Homo sapiens: one gene and its partner. The protein of the gene in region 2 interacts with the protein of the main gene of each other region in a biochemical or structural test. Each region holds a gene or a part of one and is shown on either strand. Other genes may lie near its edges.

The links. Proteins that work in one complex are often made in the same cells at the same time.
Region 1: the proteins of NR1H3 (region 2) and CEP350 form a complex in vitro, tested with the Homo sapiens proteins (one study listed by BioGRID).

Annotation. Positions count from the first base shown.
Region 1 is NC_000001.11:179,957,810-179,961,309, reverse strand, and holds part of CEP350 (centrosome-associated protein 350), read right to left. Parts: intron 1-3,500. UniProt on the Homo sapiens protein: Plays an essential role in centriole growth by stabilizing a procentriolar seed composed of at least, SASS6 and CPAP. Required for anchoring microtubules to the centrosomes and for the integrity of the microtubule network.
Region 2 is NC_000011.10:47,255,552-47,261,323, forward strand, and holds the start of NR1H3 (oxysterols receptor LXR-alpha), read left to right. Parts: upstream 1-2,444; 5' UTR 2,445-2,578; exon of another isoform or gene 2,579-3,628; 5' UTR 3,629-3,665; coding exon 3,666-3,708; intron 3,709-4,234; exon of another isoform or gene 4,235-4,239; coding exon 4,240-4,428; intron 4,429-4,857; coding exon 4,858-5,124; intron 5,125-5,689; coding exon 5,690-5,772. UniProt on the Homo sapiens protein: Nuclear receptor that exhibits a ligand-dependent transcriptional activation activity.

The sequences.
Region 1 (3,500 bases), on a different chromosome or scaffold from region 2:
CGCCGAGCTAATTTTTTTGTATTTTTAGTAGAGATGGTGTTTCACCACGTTGGCCAGGTTGGTCTTGAACTCCTGACCTCAAATGATCTGCCTACCTCGGCCTTCCAAAGTGCTGGCATTATAGGCATGAGCCACCGCGCCTGGCCATGAGGCTGTTTAAAGTAAAACTTTGAAAAGTGAAACTTTTGATTCATTATATGTATACACATACACGTATAACACACATCTATTCTTTTTATTTAAAAAAATAAAAAATAAAGATAAATGTAAAAAATCAACCTTTGGGAGCACAGAACATGGAAAATATATATAGGTGTCCTGGTCAAAAGTTCAAGAGGTTCCTAAACTTTCTCAGTTCACAGACCCCTCAGTATGCCAGTTATTTTTTTCATGGAACCCCTAGGCCAAAAAAATACCTAACAGTTCCATTTACTAAGTAGTTCAGTCCACAACCTAAAAAGTATTTATAGCCTACCAACTTAGTAGCAGATCGAAAAATAAATATGTATAAATTGAAATAAATATTTTTATTACTAAATTACCACAACTACTTAATAGGATGTGTGTACCTACTAGATATTACACAAGTTCTCAAATCTTGAAATCATTTTGGACACCACCACCTTCATTTACTGTTCCAAATTGATTTTTGCATAGTACTTGCTTTTTATCACAGCAAACTCCCAAAACCTAGCGTTTGGAAGACACAGTGTCATCAAAAAAAATGGAACACAATCTCTTGTGTGGTATCTCAAACTGGTAGTTTGAGTAGTGTCCTATAGATGTCAAATATCCCACAGCTATCCAATATTGCTGTTTCCATTAAAATTTCTCAAATAATGCATAGTGTCCAGGTGAGTTACTATGGTGCTCCACAGTACGGCAGGTCCTCCATAACATAGTTTCATTCAATATCATTTCTTCACAATTTTGATGAGAAAAAAATTTTGATTTCCCCACCAGGGCTACCATCTATGTGGAGCCTGCATGTTCTCCCCATGTCTGTGTGGCTTTTCTCCGTATGCTCCAGTTTCCTCCCACATCAGAGAGGTGCACGCATTAGGTGAACTGACATGAATTGGCATGTCTATATGGTCCCAGTCTGAGTGAATGTGGGTGGGTGGGTGGGTGTGTGTGTGTCTGTAAATGCTACCTGCAATGGAATGGCAGCCTATCTTGTGCCCTACTTGCCGGGACAGGCTCCAGCCACCTGCCATCCTGAACTGAAATAAGTGGGTAATTATCTTGTTTTTAGTATTTCTTAAATGTATGCATAGGACCCATTTATTTCAATGTTTAATATTAGAGGTGTTTGGGGTCTTAGAAGTTGCAGTTTCCAAGTACTTATGGACAACATTAAGTGAGGATTTACTTCAGTGCACAGTTTAGGAATACTGGATTTAAGAAACACTGATCTAGCCTACGGGTTTACTTTGTAAAGTAAGAAATAAGACTTAAGGCTACAAAGCTAGGAGAAAAACAAATATATTTATTATAGATTTTCCTAAATTTCAACCTTCTGCCAACAAAAGTTTTTTTGTTTGTTTGTCTGTTTTGAGCCAGAGTCTTCCTCTGTCACCTAGGCTGGAGTGCAGTGGTGCAATCTTGGCTCACTGCAACCTCTGCCACTCAGGTTCAAGCAATTCTCCTGCCTCAGCTTCCCCAGCAGCTGGGATTATAGGAGCCTGCCACCATGCCCAGCTAGTTTTTTACTTTTAGTAGAGATGGGGTTTCCTTATGTTGGCCAGGCTGGTCTGAAGCTCCTAATCTCAGGTGATCTGCCCGCCTCAGCCTCCCAAAGTGCTGGGATTATAGGCATGAGACACCGCACCCAGCCAACAAAAGTTTTGTTTGTTTTGAGATGGAGTCTTGCTCTGTTGCCCAGGCTGGAGTGCAGTGGCAGTCTTGGCTCACTGCAACCTCCACCTCCCTGGTTCAAGCAATTCTCCTGCCTTGGCCTCCCCAGTAGCTGGGATTACAGGCCTGCCACCACGCCTTGCTAGTTTTCGTATTTTTAGTAGAGATGGGTTTCGCCTTGTTGGCCAGGCCGGTCTCGAACTCCTGACCTCAAGTGACCCACTTGCCTCGGCCTCTCTAAGAGCTGGGATTACAGGCGTGAGCCACCAAGTCCCAGCCCTTCCATCAACAAATGTTTTGACACAGGATCTAATTATGAGACACTCTGTTGATGAAATGTGTAGATCTCTAAAAATCACATTCAAAAATACATTTATATCACTATTTAATAGAAGAAAAAATTTACTTCCTTTTTTTAGAAAAAAGTTTCAAAAATTATAAAAGTGATTCTTACAATAAAACCATACAAAAATGTCTAAAGTAAAAAAGAAAAGTCATCCACTCCCTCAGGAATAACATGTTTAATGTCTATCCTTATAGACCTTTTTCTATTCACATGCAAAATGAAAACAAAACTACATTTGTCTATGTGTTTTTTAAATAAATCATATTCTATAGTATAGTGCAACTTATTTTTTCACTTAATTTTATATCATGAACATTCTTCCAAGTCAATACATAATTGTAACAGCAAACACTTATGTGGCGCTTATTAATGCTTATTTAGGGCCTAACTGTTAACTCATTTAATTCTCATGGTACCCCTGTAACATGAGAACTACTAGTATATCCAATTTATAGTTGACTTTAAGTAATTCGCCAAGAGTCACAGCTAGAAAGTAGTGCAGTTAGGTTTTGAATCCAGAAGGTCCACCGCATGGTTCCAGGAGCTGAAGGATATGCTCAGCTGCTGCTCATGAAGTAAATATAGATACCCTGAAACCTGTTAACAACTGCACAGTAATTCACAGCATAAAAATACTAGACTTTTAACTATTAGCCTACCAACAGACATTTAGGACATTTTTAAATTATTTATAAATGTTATTGACATCTTGAAATAATGCTAATATAAACATTCTTATACAATTCCTATGCTGTTAAAATTTATGTAACATAAATTTTAAGCAGGAAATGATTCTATCAAACAATATATATACTTTTAATCTTGATAGGGAATGCCAAATTTCCTTCCAGAAGGTTGCTCCAATGGTATCAATTTATAGTCCCAACTACAGAGGAAAGGGTTCAGATTCATTTTTAAGTTAACACTTTGGATTCATGAAAAAAAAGGCCCATTTTGAGTTTTTAATTAATACTGAATAGACTGCCAAGTTGATCACAATTATGTTCTGATTTTATAATTATCTGACATATTAAACAAATGTAGACTTAGCAGCTGTGCAATGGATTCTTCTCCCAGTTATGAAATCAACTATGCATGAGATATCGCCCCTATACAACCTTCTGTTTTCTTATGTATAAAATATGGGAATTGGACTAGCTGGCCTTGAAGAATTTAAACTCCCAATACTGAGATTAAGAAGTGACTTAAAGTTATTACAAGGCTATAATTATAGTACTAGTATAACAGGTTAGGGTCTTAAAGTTTATATTTTCTTTAAATTACCGTAACCTGTTGC
Region 2 (5,772 bases):
TCTTTCTTTCTTTCTTTCTTTCTTTCTTTCTTTCTTTCTTTCTTTCTCTCTCTCTCTCTCTCTCTCTTTCTTTCTTTCTTTCTTTCTTTCTTTCTTTCTCTTTCTCTCTCTCTCTCTCTTTCTTTCTTCTTTTTTTTTGGAGTTTTGCTGTTGTTGCCCGGGCTGGAGGGCAATGGCGCGATCTCGGGTCATTGCAACTTCTGCCTGCCAGGTTCAAGTGATTCTCCTGCCTCAGCCTCCTGAGTAGCTGGGATTACAGGAATGCATCATCACACCCGGCTAATTTTTTGTATTTTTAGTAGTGATGGGGTTTCACCATGTTGGCCAGGCTGGTCTGGAACTCCTGACCTCAAGTGATCCATCTGCCTTGGCCTCCCAAACTGCTGGGATTACAGGCATGAGCCACCGCACCCTGCATGATCTGTAGTTTCAATCCCACAACAACCTTGTGTGGTAAAAATTACTATTATCCCTATTTTATTTATCTTTCTTTCTTTTTCTTTTTTTTATTTTGAGATGGAGTCTCAGTCTGTCACCCAGGCTGGAGTGTGGTGGCACAATCTCGGCTCACTGCAACCTCCCAGATTCAAGTGATTCTCCTCCCTCAGCCTCCCGAGTAGCTGGGATTACAGACCCGCATCACTATGCCTGGCTAACTTTTGTATTTTTAGTAGAGACGGGGTTTCACCATGTTGGCCAGGCTGGTCTCGAACTCCTGACCTCAAGTGATCCACCCGCCTAGGCCTCCCAAAGTGCTGGGATTACAGGCGTGAGCCACCGTGCCCGTTCTATTTATTTTTCAACACACCATTGCTGGCTCAACTATTCTTATTTTAAAGATAGGGAAACAAAGATTCAGAGACGTTAAGTAACTTGCTCAATCAAGATCACATAGGTAATAAGAGGTTTAGGATTTGAACCCAAAATCTGAGCCCAGAGTCTGAACGCTAAATCAACATGCTGAGTTGAAATTGACTACAGCAGTTGTGATGGCGTGTGCCTGTAATCCTAGCACTTTGGAAGGCTGAGGTGGGAGGATGGCTTGAGCCCAGGAGTGTGAAGCCAGCCTGGGCAACATAGTGAGACCCTACCCCAAAAAAGGTAAAAAAAAAAAAAAAAAGGAATAATAAAAAAAATTGACTAGGGCTAATAAGTACGGGATAGACGAGAATAATATTTCTTTTTTTTTTTTTTTTGGGGACAGAGTCTCGCTCTGTCACTCAGGCAGGAGTGCAGTGGCGCAATCTCGGCTCACTGCAAGCTCTGCCTCCCGGGTTCACGCCATTCTTCTGTCTCAGCCTCCCGAGTAGCTGGAACTACAGGCGCCTGCCACCATGCCCGGCTAATTTTTTGTATTTTTAGGAGAGACGGGGTTTCACCGTGTTAGCCAGGATGGTCTCGATCTCCTGACCTCGTGATCCGCCTGCCTCGGCCTCCCAAAGTGCTGGGATTACAGGCGTGAGCCACCGCGCCCGGCCGAGAATATATTATATTTTTCTTGTTATTCATTCAACAAATAGGAACACAGTACCTACTCTGTTGCCACATCTATGCCAGCCCTGTTTCAGGGGTGTTGGGGGAGATGAAATCAATAAAATATGATGTCTACTTTCAGGGATGGATTTCATGCCCCAGGCAGCAGAGTAGGAAGAATGACTATAGTCTCAGTAGCTGCTGGTTGGAGCCTGCCATCACTTCAGATGGGGTTGTTCCCCAGAAGAGGCAACCCGCATACCTTCCCAGGTCCATCCTGGGCTGCCACCTGAGTTGCCTGTCTTCCTTCTGCCACCTCCACCCCTATCCCAGGCCTGCCACTGCTCATAGCAGATTTCCTATCAAAGGCTCTCCTGGCCTCCTCTCTTATCTGTGGCCCCCGCAGGGCACCCACTTTCAGAAACTCCCTGGAAGGCCCAGCACCTGCCTCTCTCCACCCCTGGATTTCTACCAGCTTGGCTGAGGCCTGGGGCTAGTGGGGAGAGCTTCTTGGCCTCTTCCCAGAGGCAAGGGAGGAGGAGGGAGGCTGGGAAAGCCGCTGGGGCTCAGTGTCGCAATTCCGGGCCGTGCTGGGACCTTTGCTCCACGAGGTGCCTATGGAGGGGAGGGAACACGATTCTGGAGGCTGCTGGGATTGGGGTGGGGGTTCCTGGGAGGCAGTCCTTTTGCAAGAGCTGCTAAGAGCGCTGGGTAAGGAGAGGAAGGGGAGAGACATGGAACTTGGCTGGTCTGCAGGGAAATGCCACTGTTTTGGCCGGGAGTAGGGGGCGGGAGTGGCGGGAGAGGGGGTGGCCGGCTGGGGAGGAGCCAGCCTGGTGGAGAAGCTGCCCTGTGGGCGGGGGTGAGGAGGGGAGGGCTGTGGTCACCAGGCAGGAAGGAGGGGTGGCCTGACCCCTCGGCAGTCCCTCCCCTCAGCCTTTCCCCAAATTGCTACTTCTCTGGGGCTCCAGGTCCTGCTTGTGCTCAGCTCCAGCTCACTGGCTGGCCACCGAGACTTCTGGACAGGAAACTGCACCATCCTCTTCTCCCAGCAAGGGGGCTCCAGAGACTGCCCACCCAGGAAGTCTGGTGGCCTGGGGATTTGGTGGGTCTGCTCCTTAGCAGTGGCCTGGGGCTCTGTGTGTGTATCTGGGGTGGGGTCGGGGAATGTCCTAAGGATCTGAGAAGGGGGTTTCTGGGGAGAAGTGAGGGGTGATGGTGATGGAAGCTTGGGACAGGAGCAGGACTCTGGGTCCCAGAATAACTCATGAGGGGCTCAGGGGAGGAGGTCCTCTATGTGAATTGGGGAGATTCTTGGAGACAGGTTTGTGCTGGGACCCTGGAAAGTGGCACGAGCGAGGTTCTCTAATAAGCAGCGTGTTTCACTGGGTGGAGTGAGCTGTCCTCAGTGTTGGAGTGAGGGGGAAGGGGCCCAAGAGAAGCAGGGCAGATGCACCCAAACATTCCCTGCTGGCCTGGAGGGGACTTTGGGGGAGAAAAGCCGGCACGGTGGCTGGGAGCCCAGACTTTGGAGTCAGAGGAGGGTTGGAGTCTTGACTCTACCGCCGCCTAACTGTGTGACCATAGTTACTTAATCTCTTTGAACCTCAGTTTGCTTATCTGTAAAATGAGTTTAAGAATAGTCCTGAGCCAGGAGCAGTAGCGTGCGCCCATAATCTCAGATACTCAGGAAGCTGAAACCTGATTGCTTCAGCCCAGTAGTTTGAGGCGATAGTGTCCTATTATTGCACCTGTGAATAGCACTGAGTTCCAGCCTGGGCAACATAGAGAGACCCCATCTCAAAAAAAAAATTAATAGTTTTGACCTCAGAGGGATATTATGAGGAAAGCACATAAAGCCTTATAACAGGCTGGGCGCAGTGGCTTACTCCAATAATCCCCACACTTTGGGAGGCCCAGGTGAGAGGATCACTTGAGCCCAGGAATTCCTAGACTAGCCTGGGCAAAATAGGGAGAACCTGTCTCTAAAAAACATAATAGTAATATAATAAAGCCTTAGTACAGGCTAATATATGGCAAGTAAATGTTAGCTGATATTGTTGATATTGATAAAAGGGAGGATCAGGTGGAGAAGGGAGCTGAGGCCAGAAAGGAGCCCAGTTCTAGAAGAGTATAATCTGGGTCCTTCCTGCAGGACAGTGCCTTGGTAATGACCAGGGCTCCAGGAAGAGATGTCCTTGTGGCTGGGGGCCCCTGTGCCTGACATTCCTCCTGGTAAGCTTCATTCCATCCCTCTCCCCTGAGCCCAGACCGCAGGCTCCACGCCTCCTGTAGGAATCAGCCTCCTTCATTACCTGCCTTCTTCCTTCCTCCAGAGAGCAGTCCAGAGTCATTCTTAGTCGTGCTTGCCTCCCGCCCAGATCACCTCTCCCCTGGTTCCAGTGCCTGGCCCTTGCAGGCACCCGCCCAGTCCTCCCCAGTCTGGATTTGCTGCTAGAGAGTTGGCCAGCTGAGTGCTTACCCTGCTCTGGCTTTGAAGAGTTTTATCTGATCTCTGAAATGCATACACTCCAGCCCCCCAAAGGGACAAGGATTAACATCTTCATTTAAGGTCCTGAGATGTAAGAAACTACAAGTGACTAGTCCTAGCTAGAGCCCACACAGACTCTAGGGTCCCAAAGCCTGAGCTGGGACTTTGCTGCCCTCTAAGGGTGGGGATAAGTTTGCAGTTTCCCAGCTAGGACGCTGGGCCGTGGAGCCGGGATGGGGCCTGAGACCCCCTTGTGCCTCTCTTTTGGAGCTCAGACTCTGCGGTGGAGCTGTGGAAGCCAGGCGCACAGGATGCAAGCAGCCAGGCCCAGGGAGGCAGCAGCTGCATCCTCAGAGAGGAAGCCAGGATGCCCCACTCTGCTGGGGGTACTGCAGGGGTGGGGCTGGAGGCTGCAGAGCCCACAGCCCTGCTCACCAGGGCAGAGCCCCCTTCAGAACCCACAGGTGAGGAGCTTCTGGGTTTGGAGGAGGTAGGGGTCCAGATTCCAGGTCCTGGATCTGGAAGAGGTTCCTTGGGGGTTTTTACTTTATATATAATCTCATGGTTAAGTTCAGAGGCTTTAGAGCTAACTAAATCTGACTGATCTAAGTGTGAATTTTGTCTCTAGGCCTTTCTGAGCCTCACTTTCCTTGTTTATAAAATGGAAATAAAAATTATGGTTGTCATAAGGATCAGTGCATATAAAAGGCTCATACAGTACCTAGAACATAATGGCACTTGGCAAATGAGGGCTACTCTTCTCATAAAAGAGAGACTGGAGTTTGTATAATGAAGGGAATGAAGGTCACTGAGTGCCCAGGGCAGTGGCTGAGTCAGGGAGAACATGATGTTTTTCCTCGGGGGAGAGCGTTGAAGCACTTTCCTGTATCCAGAGATCCGTCCACAAAAGCGGAAAAAGGGGCCAGCCCCCAAAATGCTGGGGAACGAGCTATGCAGCGTGTGTGGGGACAAGGCCTCGGGCTTCCACTACAATGTTCTGAGCTGCGAGGGCTGCAAGGGATTCTTCCGCCGCAGCGTCATCAAGGGAGCGCACTACATCTGCCACAGTGGCGGCCACTGCCCCATGGACACCTACATGCGTCGCAAGTGCCAGGAGTGTCGGCTTCGCAAATGCCGTCAGGCTGGCATGCGGGAGGAGTGTGAGTTTCTGGGGCTGGAGTGGGGAAGAGGCTGAGGGGAAAGAGGGGGCCAGGGTGTGACCCAAAACAGGTGCCTGAACTTGCAGGGGCTAACTGATCCCTAAGTATGGATCCCAGTATCTTTCTTGACCGGGCGCGGTGGCTCATGCCTGTAATCCCAGCACTTTGGGAGGCCGAAGCGGGTGGATCACCTGAGATCAGAAGTCCGAGACCAGCCTGGCCAACATAGTGAAACCCCGACTCTACTAAAAATACAAAAATTAGCCGGGTGTGGTGGTGAGCGCCTGTAATCCCAGCTACTCAAGAGACTGAGGCAGGAGAATCACTTGAACACGGGAGGTGGAGGTTGCAGTGTGCCAAGATCATGCCACTGCACTCCAGCCTGAGCAAGTGTGAGACTCTGTTTCAAAAAAAAAAAATCTTCTTGCCTTTACCCAGTGCTGTCTGCTTTTCTGGAGCCCCAAACCACCCCCTTTGCCCCATCCTTCCCTCCTGTCTTTCCCCCACCCCCTTGCCCCATCCTTTCCCCATCTGCTCCCTTCCTCATATTTGGCCCTGTCCTTAGGTGTCCTGTCAGAAGAACAGATCCGCCTGAAGAAACTGAAGCGGCAAGAGGAGGAACAGGCTCATGCCACATCCTTGCCCCCC